Regions from separate parts of the Homo sapiens genome. Here all the other regions are linked to region 1. The links come from fine-mapping of genetic effects on gene expression. A gene starts in region 1. Each other region holds a variant in brackets. All regions are shown on one strand. Distances are from middle to middle.

The links. PIP is the estimated chance that this variant, and not a neighbour inherited with it, causes the effect.
Region 2: its variant is fine-mapped to the expression of ARHGAP10 in tibial artery (GTEx, PIP 0.98).
Region 3: its variant is fine-mapped to the expression of ARHGAP10 in whole blood (TOPMed, PIP 0.91).

What each region holds. Positions count from the first base shown.
Region 1 is chr4:147,727,651-147,735,830 of GRCh38, forward strand. ARHGAP10 (Rho GTPase activating protein 10) reads left to right here and starts at 4,438. Exons shown (of 23, transcript NM_024605.4): 1 at 4,438-4,805. The coding sequence starts at 4,652. RefSeq lists enhancers at 4,049-4,941, 4,942-5,834, 5,155-5,224, 6,353-6,482 and silencers at 4,135-4,654, 4,965-5,044.
Region 2 is chr4:148,068,868-148,077,047 of GRCh38, forward strand. ARHGAP10 (Rho GTPase activating protein 10) reads left to right here. Exons shown (of 23, transcript NM_024605.4): 23 at 3,126-3,909. The coding sequence ends at 3,214. Among named protein-coding and RNA genes, the nearest start is that of MIR4799, 290 kb to the left of the region's middle. The variant C/G (reference allele first, on the strand shown) is at 3,839.
Region 3 is chr4:147,833,120-147,841,299 of GRCh38, forward strand. The region is part of intron 3 of ARHGAP10 (Rho GTPase activating protein 10); the gene reads left to right. Among named protein-coding and RNA genes, the nearest start is that of MIR4799, 55 kb to the left of the region's middle. The variant T/C (reference allele first, on the strand shown) is at 3,107.

The DNA of each region.
Region 1 (8,180 bases):
CACAAAAACTACAGTATGGTATGCAGCAGAACCTACATCAAGGGAAGGTTTCCTATCTGTTAACCTCTATTTCATGTAGACTGAAACTTGACCAGCTTGCATTGATTCAAATCCCTAACTAATCCAAGCACTGAGTAAAGCATAAAAATGCCATTTGGGTGTCAGTGCCTACATGACTTAAGTACTTGAATGTCTCCCAGGCATCTCAAACATTTCATGAGTTTATACTGAAACGCATCCTTCCAACCCAGTCATCACCAACACTGCCATGACAGCTTCTTACCTCATGTTATCCTTTCAGTAAGTGGCATATCCATCCACCTAACTTACCATGCCACAAGCCTGGGGGCCACCGCTGACCCCTTCTTCCTCATTTCCAATATCCAGGCTATTGTCAAGTCCCAGAATCTCCTTCTAAAATATACTTCATTTCTGTCTATTTCTCGCTGTTTCCTTGGAGGGTCACCTTGGAGGATTGAGCTATTCCATTTCTTGCCCAGACAACTCCAACCACCTTCTGTCTGGATTTCCATTCTCCACACAGCAGCTAGAGAGAAAACACAATCCGGATCATTTTACTACATGCATAAAACTCTTTAAAGGCTCCCAACAGTGTTGGGATACAGTCCCAAATCCTAAATAAGACTTAGAGGCTCTGCACCATCTGACCCTGCCTATCCTCCACCACCTGGCATAGTTGTGAGCCAGTCTCTCTCACTGGGCTTCAGCCACCGACCTGTTCATCTCTTGAGTGTGCCATCTCAGGGGCCTGCACAAGCTGGTCCCATGTCTGTACTACTCTGTTCCTACCCCTATTTAACAGTTAACTCCTACTGATATTCCTGGTCATTGATTAAATTATCATTTTCATATCACTTCCTCAATGAGGCCTTCCTTGACCCAGCCCCAATCTCCATCAGGTGTTCCAATTATAATCTCTCACACACCCTTCACTTTAACTGCATGGTGCTTCAATTTTCAATTGGATATATATGTGTGTGATTTTTCTTTTTCTTTTTTTTTGGGATGAGGCCAGTCTCCCCCAGAGACCAAAAGCACGGTGAGGACTGTTTTGTGTGCTGCTGCATCATGAGCACCTAATACGGTGCCTAATACATATAAATGATCAGTAAATATTTGTGGGAATAATTGATTAATTAAGATGAAACCTGGAAACTCAGTAGCATCTGCTTTTGTGGCCACTTTTCTTGAGTTCTGTCTTACATGGTTTAAAACCATGATTTAAGGGCTCTCCTGCCCCGAAAATCTTTCCCACATTGATGGAATGTAATCTGTCTCCTCCTCTCCCTCATCCCTCTCTTCAGCCCATCCTCCACACTTCCTTCTTCCTTGAGTCTCATTATTATCATAATTTTCAGCAGGCACTTTACAAACACAATTTCATTAAATCTTCTCAAGCAACCTGCAGCTGCAATGTCATCATCTCCATTTCACTGATGGTAAGTCTGAGGTTTACAGAAAATTACCTTTGCTAAGGTTGCACAACTGTTAAGTAGTAAAGCTGGAGCTGGAACTACTAAATATCTATCTTTCCACTGTCCACTGTACAGAGATTTCTCTTCAGTTAGTTATACTTATTCATTCCACATTTACTGATCACTTGTATACCAGACACTGCATAGGCATAGCTGAATAAAACAAAATTAATCAGGCCCCTCCACTCATGGTAATTATTGTGGACCTATTTGGTAATGAATTAAGATTCATATTCACTAGCTCTTTAACACTGGGTGTACATGTGTGTGAAGTGATAAGTAATATTTTTTATGATGTTTTGACATTGTTTTAAACAACTTTTTTTTTTCTCCAAATATCTAAAGAACTGGGCACACTGAATAAACCAGAGTTTTTACGGCTTGAAGTCTAATGTGGTAAAGGAGAAGCAGTTCTAGAGTAGTTCATCTTAAAAAAAATTTTTTATTGAGATATATTTCACAGACCAAAAGAAATCCACCCATTTATCACATACAATTAAGTGATTTTGAGTATATTCAGAATTGTGCAACCATTACCAAAATGTAAATTTAAATTGTTTTCGGCCAGGCTCGGCGGCTCACTCCCATAACTCCAGCAATTTGGGAGACCAAGGTGGGAGCATCATTTGAACTAAGGAGTTTGAGAAAAGCCTGGGCAACATAGTGAGACCCTATCTCTATGAAAAATAAAAATATTAATAATTTTCATCACCCTGAAAATAAACTCCTGACTACATATACCCTCCACTCTATCCCCCAGTCTCTAGCAACCACTAATCTTTCTGCCTCTATAGATTTACCTGTTTTGGACATTTAATATAAGTAGATAGTATTGGCCTTTTGCAGCTAGGTTCTTTTACTTAGTATAACGTTTTCACCGTTATTGTGCCGTAGCACGTGTCAGTACTTCATTCCTTTTTATTGTAGATTAATATTTCATTTTATGGACAAACATTTTGTGCATCCATTACACAGCTGACAAAGGACATTTTGGTTGATTCTACTTTTTGGCTATTACGAATAATGCTGCTATGAATATTTGTGTGTAAATATTTGCGTGGACATATATTTTCATTTCTTTTGGGTATATATCTAAGCGTGGACTTGCTGGGTCACACGGTAACCTCCATGTTCAATATTGAAGAAGTCTCAGCAGCCCCTCTATGAGAAAAGGTTTGGGTTTCTGCTCTGAGGATTGAGTGTGGTCAGTGCTTGGCTGTTTCGCTAGGCCCTCATTTTTGTTTACACCCCCTCTCTTCTTGTCTTTCTTCCCCTTTATTTGCCTCTTTTATTCTCTTTTCTGTAGACTCCAGTCTCCTGCTGGTTTTAGTAGGAACTGAAGCTTTCACCGCCTAAAAGTTATTTGTAAAACACTTTGAACTCTCTGGAGGATGGACATTAGAGTAATAATGTTTATCTGTGGGTTAGGCACTCCTGGTGCTGTTTTGTAACAAAAGGGCTTATTGAGTAGGAGGCTTATTTAACTTGTTCGGGAGGGTTACCCTCCTACAACATGCTGTCCAAACAGATTCTTAATTACCCAGCTGAGAGTCTGAACGTCTTGAGGAATTACTTTGAAGTTTCTCGTTAATATTACCATCATATCATGTAAGTCTATATCGCGAGTTTGTAGATGTATGGAGTTCCTAGTGGGTGCCCGGCACATAATAATTGCTTAATAAATTGCGATTATGAAACGTTACTCTAATGAACTATTAGTGTTTTTTTTTAAGAAATACTTTTTTTTTTTTTTGAGACATTGTCTCGCTCTGTCGCCCAGGCTGGAGTGCAGTGGCACCATCACGACTCACTGCAACCTCCGCCTCCTGGGTTCAAGCGATTCTCCTGCCTCAGCTGGGACTACAGGCACGTGCCACCGCACCCGGGTACTTTTTGTATTTTAAGTAGAGACGGGGTTTCACCATGTTAGCCAGCTGGTCTCCAACTCCTGACCTCAGGTGATCTACCCGCCTCCGTCTCCCAAAGTGTTGGGATTACAGGCGTGAGCCACCACGTCCGGCCTAAGGTATACATTTTAATACTTTAAAATGCCTAACTTTTTTTGGGACACACTGGAGTTGTTTCATAACACACAAAATAGGCTTTTTGAGGGCACTGACATAAATTCTCATTGATCGTCACCCCCACGCGGTGAAAACCACACGTTACCTGGCATGTTTTCCGGTAGTTATTTTTAGAATAATAAAGATCGTCTTCACCTACCCCAGCAAATTTAATGTGCTGAACACAACAGAAACAACTTTTCTGTGGTTTAGCCAGCCCTCTCTCTTCAACTAAGTTATTTAGTGCGGATACGCAGAGAAGTGTAATAGGAGCTGCTGGGCCACCAAGAAAACGCTCTTGCCATTGTAAGGCTTCGATCTCAAGCGGAGATTTACCACGCATCTCACTTTAAACTGGGAAAGGAACCGGGATAAGGAAAAGAGCCCCCTGTGCGAGTTCGTTCCCAGCTCGGGGTTGGGGGCGTCCCAGGATAAATGAGATAAATGAGTTAATCATCTCCTGCAAGGCAGCCACTTCAGAGTTATGTCGCCCGCCTGCGGGGACTAACGACTGCAATTAAGACGCTCCTTCTCGGTCCCGGTCGGGTTCCGTGCAGCGGGGAGCCGACTGTGAGTCACCCCGGCCCCGGGAGCCCAAGCAAAGGGGAGGGGAGAGCGCCCAGGGTGGAGGGGAGCCGCGGGGCGAAATTCTAGCCCCAGGACGCCTCGGAAGGAAGAGGAGGGGCAGCTGCGCGTGGGGAAGAGAAGGAAGAGGCGTCCAGGGAAGGGAAGGGAGGAAGAAGGAAGGCGGAGGAAAGAGAAGGGGACGAGCGGGAGCGCGGGCCCGGCCGGGTGGCGCCTCGGGGAGTGTCTGCCGCGCGGGGGCCGGGCGGGGCGGGGCCGCGGGCGCTCAGAGCTCGGCGGGGGCTGCCGGGATTGGGGCGCCGCAGCTAGCGCTGGTCTCGGTGGCAGCTCCTCCGCGCCGCAGGACTCGGCTCTACGGGACATGTCCGTGCCGCGCTCGCCGCGCGCCCGGGCCTGCTAGCTCCTCTGTGCTCCCTGAACGCGCGGCGCCGCACCTGGCAGCGGCCTCGGAGCTCGGCTCGGGCAGGAGCGCGCGGCCGTGCGCACCGCGCAGCGACCGCTGCCGTCATGGGGCTGCAGCCCCTGGAGTTCAGCGACTGCTACCTCGACAGCCCGTGGTTCCGGGAGAGGATCCGCGCTCACGAAGCGGAACTCGAGAGGACCAACAAGTTCATCAAAGAGCTCATTAAGGACGGGAAGAACCTCATCGCTGCGACGAAAAGTAAGCGGGGACGCGGGCGCGGACGGGCTGCGGCGTGGCGAGGCGGCTGGGGGAGCCTCTCTCGGCAGGAGACGGAGGGTCTTGTGTCCGGGGCCAGCAGCCAGAGGAACGGGGAATTCATTCCGGACCAGCCCAGCTCTCTCGGAACCCCGGGGGGTCCCTGGAATCATTCCTCCTCGAGGCAGCGCGGCGAGTCCCCATTCCCGCCCCTGCGGCTCTGCGGCGGCGGGAACCAGCTGCCAGCGGGCCCCGCCTGGGCCCCGCCTGGCCCCGGCCGAACACCCCTCGCTGAATGCGCGCTCCGCTGGACCGACCCTAGGCACTCCTGGCCCGGAGTCAGGTTTCATTGCTGCCTAAAGCTACTCACAATCTCTTACAAAACCGAGGCATCTGTTTGCCTAGTTTTGTTTTGTGACTTCTCAAAAGAAATTTCTTGGGGATTCTTTGAAACCCTGCGGGAGTGTTGAGTTTTCCAGAGTCCCCTTAAGCTTCACCTTTTCCCTCTCATTGTCTGATCTTCCCCGACAGTCCTGTTCCAGGTCCTTCACGTGCCAAACCAGAAAGTCCACCTGGCTTTATGCTGCTTCCGCACATTCCTCCCCTGCCGTGCTGAGGAGGGTTCAAAGATTGGGGTTTGGAAGGGTGAGCGGACAGCCTGCCCTCTAGCCTAGGCGGGCACTGCTTGCAAATAGGGAATTCCACCCCGGTTAGGCTTGGTGCCTTCCTCCCCTGAACTTCTGTCTCTTAAACTCGGAAGAAGACACGAGATACAGGAGAGATAACTGTATTTTAGTGTAGTTGAGGAGAGTCTTTCTAGGAGAGAAGGGGCCAAAATTCATGCAGAAATACTGAGTTAGTGATGCTACTGGAAAATGGGGCGGAATTAGCCCCAGTGAGGAGCTGGGCAGCCTGACCATCCCTTGGATCCATAACCCCTTCGGAGGATGGCGGTGAATGTCCCCTTTCCCCCTTTAAAAGACCTGTCCATACAGCAGACAGGGACTTGGGCAGTATCCAGCCTTGAGGGGCTGGGTTCTTAGGGCCTTCATCACTCACCTAGATTCTCAGTTCAGTAATTCTCAGCCTTAGGTATTCGTCCCTTGTACATTTGTTTGTAGATACCACCTCTGGGGAAAATCCCCCATCTCACTGTTCTCCCGACCGCGCCCCGCCCCATTTTTCAGTAAGGGCGATTAAAACATATTGATTATACTGTCTCGGGCACCCAGCATGGTGCCTGGTACAGTAAATATGCATTTAATGAATAAGTTGAAGTACATTTCTGTGGGAAGAATTTAGTGAGCCATCCCTGTAATTTTGGAGGCAAGTCACTCAACTTCTCTGGATGATCTCCAAGGTTCCTTTTGGTTCTCTGACCTCTTTGGTGTTGCAAAATCAGGACTGGGACTCACTTAGGGTTTTTTTGTTTTGTTTTTAAGTCTCTGCTGCTTGAATCAGAAATGGGACTCTGGGACATGTGACAAGTGGGCTTATTTGGTTGAGGGCTCTCCAGGCCCTTGGCATCTGGTATGTGTGTTGGGTGGGAAGTAGGGGGGCGCCTATACATATGGAGGAGTGAGCATAGAAAGGAGGAGTTGGGAGCGGGGGTGCAGAGTGAACACGAGAGAATGAGGACTGAGGACTCTTTCTGTAACTTGATGTTAACCAGAGTCAGTGGCCGGGAGAATGTACCTTCTCTCTCATTGGTTGTAGTAGTTCCCTCTGGAGCTAGAGAGGTGTGGAGAGAGGCAGAGGGCAAAGCCAGTTTGGCCACTGGTAGAAAGCTATTTCTGTGACAGCATATTAGCTTTCCTGCCATCAGGACACATGCGTTAGGTTCCAGCAGCAGCCAGTGCATCTGGGGGGCCAGATGTCAGCTTTCCTCCAGACTGTAGACTTTCTTGAATTTGTGAATTAGTATCTTACTCATTTTGATTCTCGTCCTTTAGCATAAGAAACATAACTTGTAATCATGCTTTGAGAGTAATTGGGAAGTGTCTTTTTTTCTCGTTATGTTCATTAAGAATTTATGTTTAAATTCTTTCCCAGAAGGTGACAGGAACACAGCTGTAGCTCACATGCCTTTTCCCGCTTGCTCCATAAAGTTTACTTCTAGTTCCTATCAAAGACTAAGAGCCTTGGACTAAAGTCAGGGGACCTGAATTTAATTCTTCTTCACTGGTTAGGGCGTGGCTATAGGAAAATTGAGCAGGTCTTATTCTTTTGCGTCCAACTTCCCCTGTCTACCTCTTAGGGGAACTAATAAGGTTCTGCAGCATTTGAAAATGGCTTGATGAGGTTATTTGAAACTGCAGTCTAGGTAAATGGTTCATCTAACCAGTTGAGCTTTTGTATAACATCAGAGAGTCAAGGGATGACATTGGGTGGAGGATCTACAGAAAGAATAAAACCCACTAGGTCAGATTATTTATATTTCCAGATATTTTATATTTTATTTTACAAAAATGACCTTTTGAGCATTTCGAGAAGTGTGTATTTAAGTGATTTCTATTTTTAATTGCCCTGCACGGTGTCTCCTGTTTGCATTACATTCTTGGAAGATTTCAATATGTAATTTTGATGGCTTGATGCTTTGAAGTCTTCCATAAATATTTAGAGTTTTGAGGCCTATGCGACCTGAAGGCTTACTGCTGAATTCAATTAGGTAGCAATCTGCAAATATTTAGCACCTATAATTTGCTAAATACTGGAATTAGATACGGATTTATAATGGGGTAGAGGCCCTTGCCCTTGAGTTTACTGTCCTGTAGTTGAAATTACTTCAATCTAAGGAACATTTTTGAACTCCTTCCTGCACTGTGCTAAATTCTTGAAGAAACAAAGGATATAGACACATACCTGTGACAAGGTTAAACATTTAGTGACAAGTATTCTAACTTTTCCAGGGACAAGGGTTTGTATGTTAGAGTGGAGGAGGTTTGTGAAAGTTTTGGAACTCACTGGTGATAAGGAGTAGAACCTTATCATATTGGAAACCAGAAGAAACCAGAACACTCGAGTGTTTGAAGAGACTAGTTTGGCTGGAATGGTGGTTTTTCAGGGAGTAGTAGACTGGGATGGATGGAGAGGTCAGTTTTAGATTATGGAGGGCCATAAAAACAAGGTTAGGAATGTGGACTTTATCTTGTGGAGAGTTACTGAAGGCTTTTCAGCAGAAGGCTGACATAATAGCAAAGAGATGGTTTAGAGACAGTATCGCACATTTGTGTGTAGGGTGAAGTTGGGGATAGCGCTAGGGGTGGGGAGGAACTCCAGAGAGAAGAGCCAGTCATTTTAGTGGTGGATTTGGAGATTATTCACTCAATTCAATGAATTCTTTGTTCAAATGGCTTTTTTAGTTTTCTTTTTAAAGTA
Region 2 (8,180 bases), 340 kb after region 1:
TCTCTTTGGTGCTACTTGGGGTCCCTGCCTCACACCCGTCTTGTTCCCTGTTGTGGTCTAAAGGCTGTGAGGACACCGTGGCTGAAGCAGGGTGAGGTTCCTGGACTGAGACCTGCAGGCATAGGGAGGGTGCGTGGGAAATGACAGACACTGAGACTGCCATGTTCTCCACCCATAAGAATGGAAAAGCAGAGCCCTGTTGTCCGCGTAGACACTGCTTGGGGGAGGAGTGGTGTGATAAACTAGGAGAGGAGCCCCAGATGGGTATTTTGGGGTTCGATGCTACTGAGAGAGGTCAGATCTTCAGAGAGGGAGGGAGAGCCTGCCAGCCTTATCTGCAACTGCGGAGCCACTTTTCCTGTGCTTGGGGATGCCTTGCTGTTGGTCTCCAGACCCTTGTAGCCCACCTCGCCCACTGCTCAGCTGGGTCCACTTCCAAGGCTCTTGGATGTTACAGGATCCCCCTTGGTCGCCTCTGTAAAGCAGTGACATCTCTCTCCCTACTGGCTTCTGCCTTCCAGGGAGGGGAGGGCTGGGGAGGTGGTGAATGGGGTTGTGGAGGCGTCTCTCTGGTTTGTTGGTTGGGGAGATGCAGGATTCCCGGCCTGGCCTTGGTTTCCCCAATCAAGCCTCCTTTCACCTCCAGCGTTGTAGAAAATCACCTTTTTCCTCCTCTGTTCATCCTGTCTTTTATTAATACCGAGTCTGTGCTTGCGCAAGTGTGTGGTGTGTATAGGGTAGGAGGAGAAATAGTGAGCATGTGCAGGTGAGACTATATTTGAGACTCTCTTACTGCCTCCTCATAGCAGGTCCTGCAAGCTAAGTGCTAGTAACCCCGTATTGCAGGTAACAGCCGAGCAAGGCCCAGGGGTTAATTTCCCAGATGCATCTAGGTAGCCAGGAGTCTCCTCTAGGGCTCTGACTTCAGCCCTGGGCCCCTTGCCACTCAGGCCCCCACATTGTTACAACCCTGAGGGCCTGTTTTGCATAGAATCCAAAGCTTTTCCCTGATGGTGGCTGCACACTAGTAGCACTGCCAGCTGGGGTGTTTGGATGAAGTGAGAAGTCTCTAAAAATCCTGGTATGAAGAACAATGTCAGAGTCAAGGTCAGTGAAGGCATGAAGGAAGTAACTTGCTGCCAGATCGCTTTGAGAGCACATCTCTGAATTTGCTTACTCAGTCATTACACAGATAATCATGTGTCTGACACGGTGCTAGGTGCTGGGTCTCATGTTATATGTGTTACATGCTCTCATAGTCTGGACTAGAAGAGAATGTCTCAGTGTGTCTCTCCTATATATACACGTATGCCTGCACACACGCACACAGAACATGTAGGGTGCATAACTGGGAGCCCCGACCTGGTCTGGAGCCAGGAGAGGAGTCCTGGAAGTGGGGGGATGCTGAAGCTGCTCTTTGAAGCATGAGTAGGTGCTGTCCAGGCATAAAGGCAGGGAATAGCATTCAGGCCCAAGGGAACAGCTCCAGGGAGGCGTTGAAGCCAGAAGCTTACTGAATGTAAGGAAAGTGCAGGCGGTTAGTCTGCAGACAGCCGGAATGTGTTCCTATTCATCCAGGGGAGGGAAGAACAAACAGTTACCTTGTTGCAAAGGACAATTAGAATTGGATTGTCCCTGTCTTCCAAACTGTGGGCAGCTATACCTTAGAGGACCATGAACTCAATTCGCTGAGTTGCAATTAGCATTCAAAGAATAATACTTTTCTACACAAATCTATGGGGAAAAAAAGAGTAGAATACAGAAAGGAAGGCATTGCATGCGCGCAGTGAGGGTAAGAGTATTGCTTCATGAAACTTGTGTGTGTTACGGATGTGTATGCCTGTACTTGGTTTTTGATATGAAATTATTCTCCTGGGTTGTGATCAGAAGCCACCTTTCGAGTTGGTCCGCTGGAGTAGCTCATGCCTCCCCTTTCCTTTATGCCACGGCTGCCACGCCTGCACCTGACCATGGTTGGGGGTTTGAGCTGGGGCCTGCTCACAGCTGGGGGTTATGAAATGCTTCTGTATTGCATTTCCGAACACTGGTGAGGAGTGCTTGGACCTGTGCCCTTTGCTGTCCAGGCTGCAATTTTCTCGTTGAGTATCACGTGAATATTTATGAACAGTCCATTGTGCCAGGCACCATGCCCAGATGTATAAGGCTCAGGCTGCCTTCAGGAGTTTCCCATACAGTGTGGGAGTCAGACGAGACTCTGAGAGGAGGAGGCATCCAATCAGGTCTCTAAACAGGAGGAACTACCTGGTGAAGAGGTGGGGGAAAGGCATTCCAGTCAGAAGCCACTGCACTTGCAAAGGCCTGGAGTTGCAGTTGGGATTTCTCTGGATGATTCACTGCAGTTGACATGCATGATGTGCCAGTGGAGTGTGAAGAGCTCCTGGAGGGGCGGCTGGAGCCAGGTGCCCAGGGGCCTGTGTTACAGACCAGTAAGGAGCTTGAGTTTGAGGCTGGGAGTGGTGGCTCACGCCTGTAATCCCAGCACTCTGGGGGGCCAAGGCGAGTGGATCACCTGAGGTCAGGAGTTTAAGAGCAGGCTGGCCAATGTGGTGAAACCCCATCTCTACTAAAAATACAAAAATTAGCCAGGCATGGTGGTGCGTGCCTGTAATCCCAGCTACTCAGGAGGCTGAGGCAGGAGAATTGCTTGAATCCGGGAGGCAGAGATTGCAGTGAGCCGAGATCGCGCCACCGCACTCCAGCCTGGGCGACAGAGCGAGACTCCCTCTCAGGAAGAAAACAAACAAACAAACAAAAAAAAACACAAAAAGCTTGAGTTTGACTTTAAGCAGGGGAGTGATGTGATCAGCTCTGTGTTCTAGAGAGTTCACTGTGCATGTTCGTGCACAGTGGATTGGAAGGGGCCGGACTCTGGAAACTAGGACACTAGTTAGGAGGCTGCTTTGGGATTGTGTAGATGAGGATTGTGGTGGCCAGTGCAGGGAGGCAGAGCCTGTCAATGACCCTGGTGCAGACTTTGTGACCCAACATCCCAGAAGTGGCCCCTGTTCTCTACTGGCCACTCCCTGCTTGAGCTTTTAAGTGAACACCCAGGAGGCAAGTACTTGGGGGCATTTTGTAAAAGTGATTTTTCTCTTCCTTTTCAGTACAAACCTCCAGGGAACCTGGCTGGCTAGAAGGGACTCTGAACGGCAAGAGGGGGCTGATTCCACAGAACTACGTCAAGCTGCTGTAGCTCCTGGCCTCAGAGCCCCTGCTGACCCTGGCACCCAGGGACCTGCCTGGGGGCAGAGAGCTGTCTTCCTCCTCCGAGGCTCTGGGCTGCACCCACAGGTACCTCCACACTTGGGAGTTACCATCATCACAGTCAGCCCTGGGGGTGGGGGGTGGTGGGCAGGGATGGGACGCACCACACAGAACTGTGATTGTGGATCAGGAGGGGAATGTCAGGATTCGCAAAATGGACTTTTCATTTGTCAAGTATTGGGACTTGTGATTTTTAATTATCCAGCATATAGAATGAGAGGGAGGGCAGCCTTCTGCCACCTGTGTCGCCTCCACTGGCAGTCACGCCACCAGAGCCACCCTGGCTCCCTCTCCTCCCTGAGCACCTGCTGCTGCGATTTTAAAGGGAACTGTACTACTCGCAGTGATAGGTTTGCAGAGTGTGTGCTTGGCTGTGGCAGCCTAGCTTGGAGAAGCTGCTGTTGGTGCAAGGGAGATGGTCTCAAGTCAGAGGGAAGCAGAGACGCGCGTCTCAAGCCTGCCCTTCCTAGACGGCCACCTGCAGGACCCCACACTCACTGCACTGGCAGCGTGCACTGGCGTATTTGTAACAGGCTTCTCGGTGCTCCTCACC[C/G]GTGTGCTGTTTTCCAAACACCACCTTTTTGCCTCAAGGTCTCTGTAAATGAAATAAACTGTAATTTACTATTTGATTTGTCTGTCCTAATGTGGGGAAGCGGTCGTGGAAGTCATTGCCCCGTCTTGATTTATGAATTGGCAGCCTACGATGGGGACTCGTCTCTCTCTGCTGTTGGCCTGCTCACAGGTAGAATCTGTTAGCGGGGAGCCTGGAGTATTCGGGGTGGGGCGTGTTCCTGGGGGCAGCAGCAGCCTCTGATGTGTGCAATCCTGGAAGGGCATTCACACCTCCTCCAGTGGCTGCACAGGCCTCTCTACCCTGGTGCCTGCAGGACCTGGAGCAGGGCTGGGGCTTTGGCCCTGGGTGGTTTGTGTGAGCCATCTCAGTGCCCTGGGACCAGCCGTCCTACCAGCACCATTGTACACCCCTCTCCTACACCACCCAGCATGCCTCTGCCTTCCAGGCCTCCCTGCTAATCTCTCCATCTGGATTAATTTCGACGTGGAGGGAGGAGAGGGAGGCAGAGCAGACCTTCCTGGAGGAGCCTTCACCCTTGACCCTGCCCTGCCCCGTGATGATGGCCACCCCCAGCCTGGGCAGGCCTTGCTCTGATGTTTCCTCATTCTCCTCCACCTACAAGCCACAGGTGCAACAACCTCTTGGGGAAGAGGGGACTTGCCTTGGAATGTGGGGCTTAGTTTTAGTGGCCTCAGGATTCTGAAGCCAGCCCCATGCCCCAGAGGCTGCTCTGGGGCAGGCATGACTTTCCATGCATCCCCATGGGAGGTTCCTGGACCTGTCAGACTTCTCTCAAACATTTATCAAAGGACGGATGTGTCTGTTGCCTCATCCCCAGATGAACTGACTCAAGAGCTTGCCAGTTAACAGCTTGGAAGTCACCTCATGTGGATCACGTGAGGGTGTGGAGTTTGGGAGTTGTATGTGTATGGGGAAATGTGATTCTTGAAAAGTGTCCGTATTGTAAATAAAAATAAGGACAATTTCGATGCAACATAATTTAAAATAATCACGGGCCCCGTGAAGAGCATTGAGACCACAGAGGAGCCCAGGGCCACCCTACCACAAGCGGGTCTGAGGTGTGGGCCGGGGCTGGCTTGGCCCTAGGGCTGGGGCAGCATAACCTCCAGTAGCCTGTTTTCTGAGTTGTCATTGCTGCCCTGACTTGTTGCTTGGGATGTAGAAAGGAAACTTGACTCGTGAGAAGAGGTTTCTGGCATGTTCCACTTCTGTGAGAGCCCCTCTGCAGGAAAAGGCAAACCTGTGGGCAGCTAGAGCAGGCTCAGGTTAGTGTTGGGAGTGGCTTCCTGGCAGATTCCTAATTGGTGTATCCCAGGGGCCATTAAAAATCTCCCTGCATCAGGCCTTGATTGATTTGTTTGCTTGCTGGAGATTCCTATTGTTAACAGTGAGATGCACCCAACCAGCCGTTCCCCTCAAAGTGCTTTTACCACCACTTAAAGAAATCACCACCAAGTCTGGCTATCTATGTGACCTTGGGCAAGATCGGTTACCCCCATGATTCTGTTAAAGCCTCCTAAAAATAAAATGATACTGAGAGGTTTGGGGTTGAAATGACCTAATAGAAGCAGCGCACCCAGTATGTGGGGAGGGCTTGGCTAACAGGAACTGCTGTTCCCGTTTTTCTTAGTTCTACGAATAAGAATAGCAGTATCTTGCATCTTTGTCATCAGGGTCTTCTGTGTTCCTTAGGATGATGGGGTGACAAGTAGTGAAGTTCTACAGCTGTGCCCTGTGGAGGCTCCTGTAGCCTTAAGAGCTGAAGACCCCTCCTGTGGCTCTGTGGAAGAGTGGGGTAGTGCCAGAGGGGAGCAGGGGTGTTTCTGTCTGAGAATGTGACACGTGCACAGCAGTGTGGCCAGGACTGCCAAGGCCTCTGGGCAGGGAGCTTACCCCTGGACATGGCCCAGGATGTACTGAGGAATGGGATCAGGAGGTGTTTTCTTACTTTGGTGGATCATCTTCCTTCCCCTAGAAGAGGAGCGGAGTATGTTTTGCTGTTTTAGTTGGATGGGTGCGGCTGCTCCCCAAGGCTCTGCTGAGGCTGCCTGGACTTCCCTCAGCCCTACCTTGCTCAGCGACTGCAGCACCAACTGCGCCTGCCTAGACCAGGTCCATAGCCTGTGTTCATTCAGAGGCAGTATGGTGGTTTGGGGCAAAAAAGAGCACTTGGGCTATGTGTTTCTTGTTGACACTGGGGCTGCAGGGCTTGCATCTGATGGTGCCACCCACAGGGCCTTCCCTGGTGTTCCCTGCACCTGTAAAGGAGATGCCAGGTGAAAACAGAGCCAAAGGACTTGCAGGGGCTGCAGCCCCAACTTCCTTCCTTTGTAGTAGCAGCCACACATGCAGTTGGGGGTATGGAAGGGAAAAGCAATGGGTGTCCATGCCAGAGATGGATGTCTAACTCATTCTTTCCTTACAATGACTGCACAAGCCAGGAGATATTAGCCCATTTTATGGATGAGAAAATGGAGACGAGCACTTGCTTGCTCAGGTTCGATAAGCTAGTCACAGAAAGTTCTTTCTGCTGTGCCATCTTGTCCTCAGGGCCATGCTGTTATGAGTTGAATTGTTTCCCACTCCCCAAATTCACATGTTGAAGTCCTTAACCCCTAGTCCCTCAGAATGTGATGTCATTAGGAACTAGAATCTTTGCAGATGTTGCTAGTTAAGCTGAGCACAGTAGGGTTGGCCTTAATCCGATATGACTGATGTCCTTAAAACAAGGAGAAATTTGGACACTGAGACAGACTCACATAGAAGAAAGATGACATGAAGAGAAACAGGGAGAAGACAGCCATCTACAAGCCAAGGGGAGAGGCCTGGAATAGACCCTTCTCTCTCAGCCCTCACTGAAGGAACCAACCCTGCTGACACCTCCATCTTGGACTTCCAGCCTCCAGAACTGGGAGAAAATGCATTTCTGTTTAAGGTGCCCAATTTGTGGTCCTTTGTTACAGTAGCTCTATGAACGTAATACAGTGGTGAAAAGTGCGTGTTGCATTACAAACAAGCTGTTTTGAAATCCTATTTTTGCTATTTTATATCTTGGTGATCTCTGGTAAGTTACTTGACCTTTTTATGGTTCTGTTTGTGCCAGTGAAATGGAAAGAGGAGAAGCAACCTGTGGGATGTGACAGTTAAATGAGAGTGAATGTCCTGTGCTGGATGGGCACATGGTAGGAAGTGGGGTTTAGTAAATGGAGAGGACTGGAGAAGGCAAGGCAGCAGGACACTGTGGTGGTTGGGGGTCGGTTTCTGTCCCCCTTCTCATCTGTAAATCACTGCCTGCTTCCTGCCAGCATCTCTTCTCCAAAAGCCATTCCATGCTCTTGTCCTTTGCTGACATTGCTCAGCCTCTCCCCTCCTTCCCAACGCCACTCCAGGCTCCTGCTCTCTTGGACTTGCCTTTGTTCCCATTCACCTCCAGACTGGGCATCTTCTCAGCTTCTTAGGAGTTCTCCCTTCCAGTCTCTCAAAGCCAGTTCTGGTTACTCCTTCGCTGGCCAGATGTTTTCCATGACTTCTTGAATCTTCTTGAGCCACGTAGCTTTCCTCTGTCCACTCTGAGGATGCTGTTCCAGGAGTGTGTCCTCAAACAGCTCTCCCACTCCTAGTTCTGCAAATGTCTTCTCAGTTGCTTGTCAGCACTCTTCCTCCTTGACTGGCCTGAGCAGTAATTTATTGCTACCTCATTTGGGCAGCCCAGCTCATTCTGACACTTAAATGTCTAGCTAAAAGTATCTCAATCTATCGGTTAGAAGAATACCTTGGAAAACACTTTCTATCTGAAGATCAACTTGATTGGAAGAACTCCTATTTTTGGCCCAAGAGACCTGCACTTTAAATTTGGGCAGTGAATGCATGGCAGCTCAGGGCCATGCCTTGGTGTCTGGATTCCTTCTTCCTTGTGGAGTTTAGCAACTAAGGAAACACTGCAAGGTGGAGCAGCTCCCATGCCAGGAGCAGCAGGATCAGACCTAGCCAGGCCAGTTTTCACAGGTGCTGCCATCCACCCTCAGTCAGGCTGGCTCAGGGCATGGAGATCCATATAAAGGGGTTTTTTCAGACTAGGGAAAACTTGGAAACCACTGTCTTGGCAACATACATGCTGCAGCAAAATATCTCAGTAACTACTAGTGTGGTAGACATTTAAAGATCCTGATCTTTCACCCCTCCCCAAACCCATGCCCTTTTGTGGAGTCCTTTCAGGCTGACTCAGGGCTTGACCTCACAACTTGCTTTGGCCAATGGGCTTGGAGCAAACTTGATTCAGTCAGAGGCATGGAAAGTGTTA
Region 3 (8,180 bases), 110 kb after region 1:
GATGCATCTCCAGTATTTTCAGTGGCACAGAGGAAAAATATGTGTGGTGATACGGTTTGGCTCTGTGTCCCCACCCAAATCTCACCTTGAATTGTAATCCCTATGTGTTGAGGGAGGGACCTGGTGGGAGGTGATTGGGTCATAGGGCCAGTTTTCCCCATGCTGTTCTTGTTATAGTGAGGGAGTTCTCACGAGAGCTGATGGTTTAAAAGTGGCAGTTTACCCTGAACTTGGTTTCTCTCCTGCCACCATGTAAGACGTGCCCTTCTTTCCCTTCCCTTGTGCCAAGATTGTAAGTTTCCTGAGACCTCTGCAGCCATGTGGAACTGTGAGTCAGTCAAACATCTTTTGTTTATAAATTACCCAGTCTCAAGCAGTAACTTCATAGCAGTGTGAAAACAGACTAATTCATGTGGGAAAAACCAGATTTTGATGACTGAGATGAAAAGTGATTCAGAGGAGTTGGACTTTGAAGAAGTTTTAGAAATATCTTAACAAAAGTAGTTTGCTTACTTCTTTATGCACAAGAGGGATACATGATGAAAACATACCTTTCAAAGAGCTTTTTCAATGTATATAAAAGTGCTAAGTGTTAAGCTATTATTTCAAGATTAGCAGGATTTTTTTGTGGTAGGATATAAAATAATGGAGTGTTTTACAGTTGGTGGTGATTAGATTCAATGATATATATATTAAGTTGGTGGTAGAGATTGTGTTAGATATTCAAGAAAATGCCAATGTAGTGGGAAAATATGGTTTCGAAGCTGTGGCAGCCATGGGCACCTCTCAGATAGAGGAAGGAGGAGTGACATTGACTATCAGGCCCAGCTGCTCTGTGGTACAGTTGTGTTAGTGTGAAAGCCATGCCTCCCACGTTCTGCCTATCTTTGTCTGTTTTCTGTTGCTTATAACAGAATACCTGCAACTAGGTAAATAAAAGGAATTTGTTTCTTACAGTTATGGAGGCTGAGAAGTCCAAGAGTGGGGGACCCAGGTCTCTCTTCCTTTTTCTTTCTATAAAGTCACCAGTCTACTCCTGTGATAACCCATTAATCCATTAACTCATTAGGCTGGGAATGGTGGCTTACACCTGTAGTCCCAGCACTTTGGGAGGTGAGGCACGAGGATTGCTTGAGCCCAGGAGTTCAAAACCAGTCTGGGCAACATAATGAGACCCCATTTCTGCAGGGGCAGGGGGAAGCCAGGTGTGGTGGTGGCACGCATCTGTAGGCCCAGCTACTTGGGAGGCTGAGGTGCGAGGATTGCTTGAGCCTGGGAGGTTGAGGCTGCAGAGAGCTATTATTGTGCCACTGCACTCTAGAGTCTGGGTGATAGAGTGAGACCCCATCTCAAAAAAATTAATAAAATTCATTAACCCATTAATTCATCAGTGGATGAATCCATTCATCTTTTAAGGCCCCACCTCTCAATAATGCCAGACTGGGGATTAAGTTTCAACTTGTTTGAATGTCCCAAGCCTTCTAACGGCAGCCTTGTTAGACTTACCCCAGAATGGCACTGCAGCCTCACCCACACACACAAACACACAGACACATCCACCCACCCACACTCACACCCACACCCATACACATACCCACCCACTTCCACCCGCACACCCACCCACCTGCCCCCACCCTCACACCCATACACACCCACCCATCCGGCTTGCTTTCCTTCCCTGTCTCCTTCCCCTGGGTCAGACCTGCATCACTGTCTGATGGCCCCTCCAGTCTTCCCTGGCTCCCTCCCCATTTTCTCTCACAGATGTTTCCCCTAATAAATTTCTTGTGTGTCTCATCCTGTCTTGGTGTCTGCTTCTTAGAGGACCTGGACTAACAAAAATGAACCATTTGGAGTAAAAGATTCAGGGTACTTAGCATTGTCATTCATCGGTTGCTATTATCACTATAAGCAGAAAATGTTGCTTTTATGTAGAAATGCTGTTCTTTAAATTATCTAAATTTATAGGAGAATCCCACTTCATTTATAAATATTTTGAGTGCCTACTATGAGCCACCGTGTTCTCACACCTGAGGATACAATGAGGAAACCCTTGTCCAGAGTGCTCAGCTAGTGGCCGCCTGGTAGAGAATGAGTTCCCAAGAGTTTTTCAACCCTGCAGCCCTTGTTTTTTACTGTTGACTGCCACTTTTTTCTCTTAACCCGTGCATCACAGATGGGCTGGAAAGAAAAGCTTTTGTCATTGATTAAAGCCATTCTTTTCTGAATGTTTCTTTTCTTCTCTCACATTTTTTCTTTTTCTTTTCCTTTTCCCTTAAGTCTTGCTCTGTCGCCCAGGCTGGAGTGCAGTGGCAGGATCTTGGCTCACTGCAGCCTCTGCCTCCCAGGTTCCAGAGATTTTCCTGCCTCAGTCTCCCTGAGTAGCTGGGGTTACAGGCATGTGCCACCATGCCTGGCTAAATTTTGTATTTTTAGTAGAGACAGGGTTTCACCATGTTGGCCAGGCTGGTCTCAAACTCCTGACCTCAGGTGATCTGCCCGCCTTGGCCTCCCAAAGTGCTGGGATTACAGGCATGAGCCACTGCGCCTGGCCTATTTTATTTTCTTGATTTAACAGTTTATTGCCTTAGTATGCACGAGGTTCCATTTCTAGCTGTGCCACTGAGTCATACCATTCACTTCAGAAACTAAAATTTTCTCTTATGTAAAACAAAAAAAAAATTCAAAATTGCCTCATGAAACTTTAATTTCTATGGGGTTTTTATTTCCTCTCATAATAATATTCTTCCCAAGTATTTATTTTGTTTAAAATATCGAAGCGAGGTTCTTACTGTCCCTTATGCACAGAGGGAAGGAAGATCAAGTTTCAGCATCTGCTGCATATCCTTATTAGGCAGACTCATTCCTTAAATACTCAGTAGCTTTTGTTTTATGATTCTCATTTTTTCCTAAGTGTACTTAAAAACAAATCTTTACAGGTAGATTGTGTTTGATTTAAATAATCTGAATAAAATTTCTGCTATCTTTTTTCAGTTAATGTCCTTCAGAATGGATGCTAGCTTTTCTTTTGTGGGAGGCAAACACACCCTAACATACTTGTTCGTAGAAGATAGATACTAAGAGAATCGTAGACTTTGGTGATACA[T/C]TGACCTTTTTTTTTATTTTTATTTTTTGAGAGAGCCAGGTCATAGGCAGATATTCAGGGAATTAAATCAGAGACCAGAAGTTGTCAGAATTTCAGCCTTAATCCTCTTTAATAGGACTAGGTTTCAAGTTTTTCACAGTTCAGGATTGAAAGTTGATAAAATTCTTACTGGGGACATTTTATTCTTGGATTATCTGTATGAAAGCAGAAGTGTGATAATTGAACTAGTCGATTTGGGATATATACTTTAAAATCATAGTTTCTAGCTTATTATGTGAGTCGTCTTTGGTCTGAAAGAATGAGGCATTATTCAACAGCCATTTCCTATTAATCGGCTCCTGATTTTCAAGTTTGAACCCTGTGGAATTAATTTATAGCACCTGAGCACCTGTGTCCCAGTTAGAGCTTTGTGCGTGGGTTCCTTAAATCTAAGTACCAAGTAAGCTAGTACTTAGCTAATGAGTGTGAGCTATTGCCATCATAAAATTGAATTTCGTTTTTACATTAGTTTCTCTACTGGGAAAATTAGATTAGCTTGAGCTGTGCTTGAAAATAAAATACCATACTGGGATTTGTTGGGAAGTTACAATTGCTTCAAGTATGATGTGCCTTTTTTTTTTTAAATTGTTTTAGGTAGGGAGAAAGTATTATTCCTGGCTTTATAGTTGAGAATATTCAGGTAACAAAAGGAAATTGTTATTTTCTGTCATCTAAAAATAGAACTAGTTAGGGCAGAGCCAAAATGAAAACACGTTGGCCTCCTATTTTTCCGTGCTGGAGGGCCCTCGTAGCGAAATCGATTGTGAAACTTTTTCACTTTTTGTCAACATTAGTCTTTTGACTCTTGTTCTTTCTCTTATGTCAGGTATTAAAGTGGGGGAACTTTATTGGCCATCTTAATCTTTCTATTTAAACTTGAGCCTAGAATGATGGGGAAGGTATAGGCCGGGGGAGGCTGGATAGATGGAGAAAGAGGTACCAAAGGGTGAGTGTGGAGGGAGAGTGATGTAATTAATTGATAATGAATTGGTTTAATTAGGGGAACTCTTGTGTTAGGAGTATAGAGAAAAGAATACGAAAGCATTTTGTCAAGATTGTTTATACGGTTCTGAAATTCTAAAAAATACTAATCCTTTATTAGTCTGGATTCTCAATTGCAAGCACTAGCTAGTTTGAACATAAAGGAAATTCATTAAAGGGTATTGGGTTTCTTGTAGTATCTTTAAGAGATGTGGGGAACCAGGAATGATGCCCAGGTTGTACCACAGAGCTGGGCTTAGAGCAGATGCCACTATTGCTACTGGATGTGGACACTACAGTTTGCACCAAGAGCCTCACTGCCCTGTGGCTGTTGGAAGAACTGCTGCCTCTGGAAATTAGACTAGTTGCTGCCACCTCGCTAGAATCTCTGGTCACTGTTTTTTTTTTTTTTTTTTTAAAGCAGTAGCTTTTGAATCCAAGTCTTGGATGGGACCATCTCATTAGTGGAACCCTAGCTAGGTGTCATTACCTTACTGCAAGCCAGTGTCTGTCATTTTTGGCTTTTATGGTGGGAGGTGGACTTTGTTTCAGTGGGAAGGAGAATTCCTCAAACATAGGAAGGGGTTTCAAGTGCTGGGCAGCCCAAAAGGACTGATGTTCCTGTATGTGCCTGATTGTAAGACAACATTATTTTCCCAGAAGATTAAACATAATAAAATTGTTTCAGACAACTTGAACACGTATACTTTTAGGTATGCATATGTACATCTGCTAGATAATCAGATGTCTCCCTTCATCATTTACTTGATTAAATATGTGTCCATATTTAAAATCAAATAATAGGCAAAGTCAGCATATATTTTAGAAACATTTTCTGCACTTATTTAATAAAAAATTTGTCCCAGCTCTTGGCACCTTTGAGATTAGTATATTCATCATGGATACATTCTGAATTTTTCAGTACAGCTTTCCAGAGCATTGATGGCCACATCTGCCTGAGTTCTTTGAGCTATAGCACCTAAAATCTTTCTGATGCTTTCACTGGAAATTTTATCTCAAGCCAAAAGTATATGTTAGCAGCCCATTTGGACAGTCTCTTTAAAAAACTTATTCCTGAACCTGGCACAGTGGCTTGAATCCATAATTCCAGCTACTTAGGAGGCTGAGGCAGGAGGATTGTTTCAGCCCATGATTTCGAGGCTGTAGTGATCTGTTATCACACCATTGCACTCCAAGCCTGGGTGACAGAGTGAGACCCTTGTCTCTTAAAAAAAAAACACACACACACACACACCAAAGACTTAACTCTGGGATATGTTTCCATGATTTCTCTTCCTCCTCTTCTTCTTCACAGGGTCTAACTGTTGCTTGGGCTGGAGTGCAGTGGTGTAGTCACTGCTCCCTGCAGCCTCAACCTCTCGGCCTCAACTAGCCTCCCACCTCAGCCTCCTGGGTAGCTGAGACTACAGATGCATGCCACCCCACCTAGTTAATTTTCTGTATTCTTTATAGAGATGGGGTTTATGCCTTGTTGCCCAGGCTATGATTTGTTTAATGTAACCACTGATCTTATTCCTTTTAAAGTGAGCTTTATAAAATTACTGAATACAAAATTTTGAAGTCATCTCTGGAATTGTAACTAAATATCTTAAATTTCTTAGTGTCCCTTTGTTTTTGTAACTTAGTCCTGTTTGTAATCTCTAAGTATCTGAAACTAAATGTGATTAGGGCTATTTTAGGCTAAGATTCCTCAAACAGTTGTTGATCAAAATAATGGGAAAGTCCACTCCTTTAGAAGACTCTTAAGAACTCTTACACGAGGCAAGTTCTTTTTTTTCCTAACAGATCATTTTGGGAAAAAGATTCCTTTATGTTTAGATCTATCGTATCTATCTATCTATCTATCTATCTATCTATCTATCTATCTATCTATCTATCTGTCTGTCTGTCTATGTATATATAAAGTTTCTAGGCACCATTTAAGATTCCGTTTCAAGGAAAAACAAGAGCTGTGTTTTTGCTGAATGGTTTCTTTGCTGCTATTCTTGACATTAGAATTGGAAAACAGAATTTTCCCTTTAGTTTAATGAAATGGGAAGTATCTGGAAGGTCATGGGAGAAAATAGGGGAGATATTCCTTTGTTCTCAGATTATGCATTCCTCTGGGGTCAAAAACACGTGGAATCCAGGCTTAAAATAATGAGTGTTCTGGGGAACGGATGTAAAATTCCTTCTGTTTCACTATACTCAGCCTATCCTTGTTAGTACTGAGTGATTAGAAAGGCATGATTTAGTAGTTATACTGACTTACTCAGTTTTACCTAGACTGAGACTTTAGAAAATTGTTACTAAAGATACTATAGGATGTAGGTATGCCTTTGTTGTGTTTTTACTGGGTATGGGGTTATAGCCCTAAGTCCTATTGTCTTTAGAATTTATGACATCAGAACTTAGACTTTGATTTCCAGTGTGGGGGAATGTAAAGTTGTTGGAGTGGTTCCTCCCCACAGTGGAGTCTGATTCTCTGCAGGTTGGTTGTTATTCTCAACAGATTTTTTAGCTCTAGCGTGGACTGTGGAGGATAGATTAAGATAACATAACTTTCCTTTCCTTTTTAGACATTTAAGATCCTTACATCCGAATGTCTGACGAAAAAGGATTTCAGACTTGAGTAATTGTGGGAAACATTTTAATCCTCCACACTGTTACATAATACTCTTTTTACTTTGAATTGTGAAGTTCTAATGGATTCTCTAGTTTGCTGTTGTAGCATGATTCTCAAAACTACAGCATGGAAATGTACTTTGTACTTCTGTGTCTCCCAGCTCATTTAGAATCCCAGATTGATAGAGATGGATGAGGACCTCCGCTGTCCTCTTGGCCAGCTTTCTCCCAGTGCAGGCATGTGTGAGAGGGTATTCCTGGTCATGGGTCATCTAGTCTCTGCTTGGTTATGTGGAGGGAGCTGGAGGTCACCACCTTGCCAGGCAGCCTGTTTCATTATAGTTCTCTTGAGTCCCTATGATAGGAAACCCAAATCTGCTACTCTGCAGCTTCTACCCATCAAACCTGGCTTTGCTCCCTTTAAGCAAATCAGAATGATTTTTTTTCTTCTCTCATGCAGTACCCATTTAAATATTTAAAGACAGCTTTCATGTTTCCACTAAATGTTCTCTTCCTCCCCACTCACATGAAACATCTAGTTTTTTTTATTTCTTCCTCCTAAACCTTTTTAGCATTCTGGTTACATTCCTGCTTTACCCCAGTTGGAAATGGCTGTTTTAAAATGTGGTAACCATGCTATTGAGGTAAGCTCTAATCTAACGGGGGATGCAGTCGAGTGCTTACCTTGTTTGGATTCAGGCGGTATGTGTCATCAGTGTATGTTACAGGGTCAATTTGTGGCTCCATTGGCTTATGTTAAACTTTCAGTTAAGAGAACATTTTAGGAGATTTGAGCCCAGTATGAAATTCATGTGACCTGTTCTCGAGACATCTTGCACACCTGAGCAGTTGCCTTTCAGCATCCTGTAGATTGCTTATCCCAGGCAAATCCTAACGGCGCTACTTTTGAGTCCCTCTCTTTAGCTCGAGAGCTCCTTGAACTGTGATTCTTTTATCCAGCATTCCTTCTTCCTTCCCAACTTCTGATTGGCTGCAAATATTGTAAATGTATATTTTTTAAAAATACAAGATAAGCGTAAGAGCATTGTTTTGCCATGATACTCAAGATGATCCTTTCAGGCAGGGTTTGGCAAACAGTGACCCATGGGCCTGACCTACCTTGCTTCCTCTTTTTGTAAGTCAAGTTTCGTTGGAACACACTTGGACCCATCATTCATATGCTGTTTGTGGCTGCTTTTGTGCTACCACAGCAGAGATGAGTAGTTGGAACTGCAGCTGCATGGCTGCAAAGCCTAAATTATTTACTACCTGGTCTTTTATGGAAAAAGTTGGCTGACTTCTGCTGTGAGGAGAGAGCATCTGATTATTTCATGTTCAAGAAGCTTCCTTTTGTTTCCAAGCAGAGCTATCCAAAACCCTTTCCAAGGCTCACTAGCCAAGGCATTTTGCGACTTCTTTTCTTGGCTGG